2 linked regions of the Homo sapiens genome follow. The protein of the gene in region 1 interacts with the protein of each later gene in a pairwise test. Each region holds a gene or a part of one and is shown on either strand. Other genes may lie near its edges.

What was found. The genes of interacting proteins can lie anywhere in the genome.
Region 2: the proteins of CCDC24 (region 1) and CHURC1-FNTB interact in binary tests that used the Homo sapiens proteins (3 or more experiments, as listed by UniProt).

What each region holds. Positions count from the first base shown.
Region 1 is NC_000001.11:43,989,303-43,993,051, forward strand, and holds the start of CCDC24 (coiled-coil domain-containing protein 24), read left to right. Parts: upstream 1-2,296; 5' UTR 2,297-2,444; intron 2,445-2,523; exon of another isoform or gene 2,524-2,544; 5' UTR 2,545-2,576; coding exon 2,577-2,702; intron 2,703-2,909; coding exon 2,910-3,085; coding exon of another isoform or gene 3,086-3,124; intron 3,125-3,220; coding exon 3,221-3,337; intron 3,338-3,749. Other genes in the region: B4GALT2 (beta-1,4-galactosyltransferase 2), read left to right, coding at 996-1,146.
Region 2 is NC_000014.9:64,912,597-64,916,345, forward strand, and holds the start of CHURC1-FNTB (CHURC1-FNTB protein), read left to right. Parts: upstream 1-1,764; 5' UTR 1,765-1,818; coding exon 1,819-1,938; intron 1,939-3,749. Other genes in the region: CHURC1 (protein Churchill), read left to right, coding at 1,900-1,938. UniProt on the Homo sapiens protein: Essential subunit of the farnesyltransferase complex. Catalyzes the transfer of a farnesyl moiety from farnesyl diphosphate to a cysteine at the fourth position from the C-terminus of several proteins having the C-terminal sequence Cys-aliphatic-aliphatic-X.

The sequences.
Region 1 (3,749 bases):
GCCATTGTACTCTGTCTCAAAAAAAAAAAAAAAAAAATCACTAGATCAATAAATTTGAAAAGGAGACTTTATTTCTCTTTTATAAAGGGTTACAACCTGCAGGCTGGCCATCCCACTGGCTAGGAAGCAGAGCCTCCAGCCAAAGCCTTAACAGGCACTTTGAGGGAGGGAGGAGTGAGATAGGAATTTTAGTTGAATGGATTGGTCAACAGGTTACTGGAGGAGCTATGAATATTTACGGAGGGGGTCCTGACATATGCATATCGAACAAACATGCATGTTATATACCATCCATGTTCACCTTGGGGTGGAGACTTAATATTTAAATATATCGCAGTTAGGCCCCATACGTCAAAAAGACAAAAGCACTCAAGTGCGCAGCCTCTGTAAGCTGGCTAGAACCAGTCCATGGCCGATGGTCTTATCAGGAGAAAGTTACTGAGATCAGTCTCTTGTCCCACCAAAGCTATAATTATGGCTTGTGGAACAGGGGCGTAGGGGTCAGCATCTGGCAGTGGGTGAGCTGCAAATTTTTTTCTATTATTTATATTACCACATTATACAAATTGTTTTAATATTGGTTATCTCAAGTCCTGTACTTGTTTAGCTGCTACAGAAAAAGAAAATCCTCGCGGCAGTTAGAGCATAGTCTCTTCTTTAAGTGCAGAGGTGCAAGACTTAACCCTTGCCTGGCATGGCCTTAGATCCTATTTATAATTAGGTATCTTATTGACACAAACAATGCATTCTGTCAGTCTTGTGATCTCTGCTTTGACGTTAATGCTGGTCATTTGTTGTGTCTAAGCTGCAAAAGGGCGTGGGCATAACATGGCATGTTTGACGTCCCTTCCCATCATAGCTGGAAACCCTGTTTTTAAGGTTCCCTGGGGTCCCCTTGGCCAAAAGGGGGTCCATTTAGTTGGTTGGGGGGTGTAGGATTTTATTTTTAGTTTACAGTTGTTAGCCCTGATGTGGACCATTTCCATCCTATCTAGGTTTACCAAGATTCAAAACACGAAGCTGACCATGAAGCGGGACGGCATTGGGTCAGTGCGGTACCAGGTCTTGGAGGTGTCTCGGCAACCACTCTTCACCAATATCACAGTGGACATTGGGCGGCCTCCGTCGTGGCCCCCTCGGGGCTGACACTAATGGACAGAGGCTCTCGGTGCCGAAGATTGCCTGCCAGAGGACTGACCACAGCCTGGCTGGCAGCTGCTCTGTGGAGGACCTCCAGGACTGAGACTGGGCTCTGTTTTCCAAGGGTCTTCACTAGGCCCCCTAGCTACACCTGGAAGTTTCAGAACCCACTTTGGGGGGCCTCCTGCCTGGGCAGGCTCTTCAAGTGTGGCCCTCTTTGGAGTCAACCCTCCTTCCCGACCCCCTCCCCCTAGCCCAGCCCCAGTCACTGTCAGGGTCGGGCCAGCCCCTGCACTGCCTCGCAGAGTGGCCTGGGCTAGGTCACTCCACCTCTCTGTGCCTCAGTTTCCCCCCCTTGAGTCCCCTAGGGCCTGGAAGGGTGGGAGGTATGTCTAGGGGGCAGTGTCTCTTCCAGGGGGAATTCTCAGCTCTTGGGAACCCCCTTGCTCCCAGGGGAGGGGAAACCTTTTTCATTCAACATTGTAGGGGGCAAGCTTTGGTGCGCCCCCTGCTGAGGAGCAGCCCCAGGAGGGGACCAGAGGGGATGCTGTGTCGCTGCCTGGGATCTTGGGGTTGGCCTTTGCATGGGAGGCAGGTGGGGCTTGGATCAGTAAGTCTGGTTCCCGCCTCCCTGTCTGAGAGAGGAGGCAGGAGCCCCAGGGCCGGCTTGTGTTTGTACATTGCACAGAAACTTGTGTGGGTGCTTTAGTAAAAAACGTGAATGGAGCAGCTCCCTTGTCTGTTTGGGGGTGGGGGTCGGGTCCCTGAACGTGGTTACCCTGAGTGTGTTGTGGTGGAAGGGCACTTGGGGAACCTGGCCCAACAAGTAAACCTGACCCGGGCCATCCTGGTTCTCCAAGCGCTGCCACTCCCTAGGCTTTCACTGGCCTTAAGGGGAAGTTTGTCCTTGCACTGCTTCCGGGACAGTGGAGGCGACGAAGTAATAAACCCGTGGACCCAGATTTCTCAGGTCTTAACACGTTCCCTGAGGCCTAAAGGTGCCCAGGGCCGAGCCCAAAGTGCTTGGGTCAGGGCTCGGTGGAGCGCCGAGGTGAGTCTGAACTCCCAGCCGGCACGCGCCGCCCGCCGGACCAAACACGGGAGGGGGCGGGGCCCTAGAGTCGCGGCGTGGTTTCCCGGGTGATGGCCACGCGGAAGAGGTGGGGCTAGGGCCCTGGTTCCCACTGCCTGGTTTCTGGGCCCCCGGCATCCGAGTCGGCCAAAAGCCGGGCAGAAGAGAGCGCCAAGGACTGGCAGTTCCGGAACGGGCAATCCCAGCCGAGGGGACCAGCGGCAGAGCACGGGTGGGGCTTGGGAGAGGGCGGGGCCCATAGAGGGGCGGGGTTTGGTGAGCGTTGCCGGCGGGCCCGCGGTACCTCCCGCACTCTGACCTGCGGCCCGTAGGTCCGAGCCGGGGACGGCGGCGTCGGTGGGTCATGCTCCGGCACTCCCCCTCGCTGTGGGAGCTGGTGGAGGAGCACGTTCCGCTCCGGGAGCGACGCGAAGTGAAGAGGATTCTGGGGGAGGCGGCGGTGGACCTGAGCCTGGAGCTGCGGGCGGAGGTGGGGAGAGGGAAGGTGGGCCACGCCCCTGGCCTGCCCCACGACTCGGGTGATTTCCCACCTCTGCGGGTCCCTGGCCCTGCCGGGTAACTCCCGAGATCCTATCCTGGTCTCCCCTTTGACTCCGCCCTCTCCCTCACTCCCCCAGCCCCCACCATTCCGGACACTCCCCTCCCCAGTCGCAAGGTATCCCAGCTCTCCTTGCAGGTGGCGATGTTACGGGCACTGCTCCAAGAGGCTCGATCCTCTCAAGCCCCCAGCTCCCGCCCCATCTCTGACCCCTCTTCTCTTCTGGCACCACCGCCTCTCCTAAAGGACCTCTTGCGCCAGGAGCTCCGGCAGTTGCTCCAGGGTCTCCGCCACAAAGCCATCTGTGAGGGCAGGTGGGAGCCTCAGGCCTGGGCCCTTTCCCTAGATACCAGGTGGGCTAGCGCTGCCCCTAACAAGGAGCCAGGGTTGCCTTTTCTGTGGTTTCCAGAAAGGAGCCTCTCAGCTTCCTTCCTGTGCACCTTCTGCAGGGACCAGGCCCAAGCTTGGGTCCAGTATAGCCCCAGGGTCCTGCACTTTGCCTTGGAGGAGCCCAGGTGTGATTTGCCAGAACAGGAGATATTCCAGATGAGAGGTGGTGGGCCCAGGTAAGGTGATGGTAGGAGAGAGGGATCTGTCCCTGCTTGGCAGAGGGCCCTAGCCCACTGGTGGGTTGCACCTGGCTCCATGCAGGAGATTCCAGTCACGGGCTGGGCACTTCCACCGCCACTTGTGATAGAGATTATCAGCCCATGAGGGCTACTGAAACCCAGAGGAAACACCTGCCTAGCCTGGGGACAGGCAAAGCTTCCTGGAGAAAGTGGTTTGATCTGCGTGTTGTAGTATGAGGAGCAGTTTTCAGGGAGATGAAAGAGAAGAGCTTTGTAGGAAGAGGGAAGAAAGGAAGCCATGTCCAGCAGGCGGTTGTTCCTCTGGCCTAGAGAACAGGAGTGAGGGCTGGGCTAGGGAGGCAGGGAGAGCTGAAGAGGATGGTCACAAATGGTATTTACAGCTGGGACT
Region 2 (3,749 bases), on another chromosome or scaffold:
AGGACACTTTTGAAAGGTTGAAAATGTCATACAAATGGGAGGTATTATAATTATTCTAAGAATAAGGTAAACTCTGATGGCTCTAGTTCTTGCAGTGTTTCTTAGCACACCTATGATTTTTAATAACAGTTGCAGATACTTACTAGAAGTTGAAATACTAAAGGTTACAACTTCAGTGCTTCCGTGGAAAAATAATTCCCATATTAGCAAACCCATTTAAACTGGTGTGCTTTGAAATGGTTATTAATCTCTTCTTTAAGGAATCTGGATCCCAGAGTCTCCCAGGCTCCCCAATCTTTCTTCCCTGACATGACAGCAATAAAGCAGGGCTGAGGGAGGATGTTGATGTTCCCATTGGGGTAGAGGAGTGTGATAAAGACGCATTGTTCAGAAACAGAGACAAACTTCGGAGATTCGTCTGCAAGTTAATTAGGTCGTTGCGAATAAATAAGATGCTTTCAATACAGAGAGAAAGGATGAGGCGGGGCAACAAGCACAAGCATTTTGAGACCCACAGGATTGGGAAATGATGCAGGAACAACTGACCTGGCCATTTTTCTTTCTTTCTTTCTTTTCTTGGAAGCACATATGTTTATTGGTTTTTTAATCTGTGAACCAATAGGTCATTTATAAATGGATGTGCAAATCTGAAATCAAAATATCTGCAGTCAATTCAATTAGATAATTTTTGAAATCTATTTATTTTTAATATACTTTAAGTTCTAGGGTACATGTGCACAACGTGCAGATTTGTTACCTATGTATAGATATGCCATGTTGGTGTGCTGCACACATTAACTCGTCATTTACATTAAGTATATCTCCTAATGCTATCCCTCCCCCCTCCCCCCACCCCACGACAGGCCCCGGTGTGTGGTGTTCCCCACCCTGTGTCCAAGTGTTCTCATTGTTCAATTCCCACCTATGAGTGAGAACATGCGGTGTTTGGTTTTCTGTCCTTGCGATAGTTTGCTCAGAATGACGGTTTCCAGCTTCATCCGTGTCCCTACAAAGGACATGAACTCATCCTTTTTTATGGCTGCATAGTATTCCATGGTATATATGTGCCACATTTTCTTAATCCAGTCTATCATTGATGGACATTTGCATTGGTTCCAAGTCTTTGGTATTCTGAATAGTGCCACAATAAACATACATGTGCATGTGTCTTTATAGCAGCATGATTTATAATCCTTTGGGTATATACCCAGTAATGGGATGGCTGATGACCTGGCCATTTTTCTATTTACATAGTGCTTGCCCGCCACTGAGGTGCTTCTGTGACACCTGAGAGAGATAGAAATACGTTCCTCGTTGCTATGTCCTCCAGAGGACTCTGGAATGACCAATTATTACTAATATTTTAAGTGTTTTTTTAGGAGATTTTCTGCAGCACTCTGAGTGTCTCTTCCCAAACACTTCGGTTACTGTTTATTCACCTGCTGAGATCTGGTCTCTTATTCACTCTCATTGCCTTAAGAAATGGTACAGAAATGTATTCATTAACATTTCAGATTTGTATATGCGGTAGCGAGAAATAATTCCCTTTCTTGTGTGTCGTGATTTGCCTTTCTTGTCAGCCTAAGCTCAGGAAGGTGTCTGTGAGAACTTCGCTCAGCCCAAGATCCCTTTCCCTTCCCGTCACATCTGTTAGCGCACAAGATTTCTTCGTCTGTCTCCAAAGGTTTCTGAAGCCCCACCCTTTGCCCACGCACGGTGCCAAGGAGACTGTGCCCTGCCTTGACAACAGTTGCTAAGGGGCGGAGACTTCGGCTCGGTTCCCGAGACGGAATACCCAGGAGTCGAGTACTTGGGCGCATGCGGCAACCGTATCTCAGTTCTCGCGAGGTTTCGTCTTCCCGGAAGCGTTGGAGGACATTCCCTGTTGACTGCGTCGCGATGTGTGGCGACTGTGTGGAGAAGGAATATCCCAACCGGGTGAGCGACTGGGCGCTCCCTTGGCCCGCGGGCGGCCCCCGAGGTGTCTCATATCCAAGGCTGGCCTTCCCAGAGAGGCCGTACGTGGGGCGGACTCGGCCGCACTGCCGGTCCCGGTGACCCAGTAGCGGTATTTAGGCACACCAGGGATGGCCTGTGGCGGTCTGCACCTCTGGTACCCGCCCTGGCGGCTGACCTCAGTTGTAGTGGCCGTTCTCTTGAGCTCCAAGGAGCAACAGAGGAACCCCACCACCACCACAACCCCCGTCGACAACCGAGGGACTCCCCCACCCCCACTTCCGGTCTCATCCTCAAGCTCGATTTGATGAAGTACAATTTTCTTACCGAATTCTAGCGCTGGAGGGGACCTCTGTGGTCATCTGTTCTAACACTTTTGCAGATGAAGAAACCGATGCCCAGAGAGGGGAAATCACTTGCCCAAGTTCACATTCTAGTTGCATGGATGAGAGCCAGGACTAGAATTTAGGTTTCCTGCCTGTTACCGCCTTCTGAATCTCAGTTACTTTCAGGTTCAGGAGTTTGCAAAGCTTGTCTATTCTCATTCATTCAAGGCATCCTTGTTGAACATTTATATATGTGTAGTTAGATTACTTTGCTAGGCCAGAAAGGGATTATTTCTCCTCTCTTTGAGACAGGGTGCTGCTGTTGCCCAGGCTGGTCTCAAATTCCTGGGATCAAGTGATCCTCCCGCCTTGGCCTCCGAAAGTGCTGGGATTACTGGCATGAGCCACCACGTCCAGCTGGATTATTTGTTTCAGAGAAGAAATTAAAAGGCACCTTTGGTGCTGCCTAACAGCTTACAGTTTTGGGGAGTATGTGACTAACAAAAAATGAGTAGCTCAGTTCAGAAATGCTATTCAAGTTTAGGGAAAGGGGAGGGCAATAGGGGATAGTGCTGTTCTCCCCTGAGAAAAGGTGGACATCATCTAAGACTTGAAGGACAGTTGTAATTAGGGTAGAAAAGAAGGTGAGGAGCTGGAGGATGGGGGAAAATTACAGAAATGGAATTTGTGCATTGGTTGGGAAGGAGGGAGAAAGTCTCTGTAGTTCCTTATGTCTTAGTATCTTATGGGTAATACTTAGGCTTTTGAGTAGCATGTATAACAGTATGAATTCTCCTGTAGTACAACTACTTTGAAAAAGCGGGTGAGCCTTATAAAATACAGACATGACCCAGTGATTCCCATTCTAGAAAAATGCATGTGTATATGCTTCTGAAGACTTTTATAAATAAGTGTTCATAACAGCATTATTTTTGTAGTAGATTGGAAAAGTAACTGATACATTCATTAGAATGGAACACCATTAATGAATGAGGAATGGAAGTGAATGAATTAGAGCAGTAGTTCTCTACCAGGAGTGATTTTTGGCTCTTAGGAGACATTTGGCAATATCCAGAGACATTTTTTGGGTGTCAAAAGGGGAAGTACTACTGACTGCTAATGGGTGATGCAAGGGATGCCGCTAAACATCCAGCAATACATGGGACAGCCACCACAACAAAGTATCACTCCCAATGTCAATAGTGTGGAGGTAGAGAAACCCTGAATTATAGCCGTGAAACCAAACTAGAATTACACAGCAGCCTGAAAAGTCTTACAAATAGTGTTGATGAAAGAACACATAAAGTATAATTCAAAAAGAGGCAAACCAAAATATATTATTCAAGGATGTACCTGGGTGGTAAAACTGTAAGGAACGTATACAATTACTGTTAAGTCGAGATAGTGGTTACTCCTAAGGGATTAGGGTGTGATCAAGAAGGGTCACATGAGAAAAAGTCTTCCCGG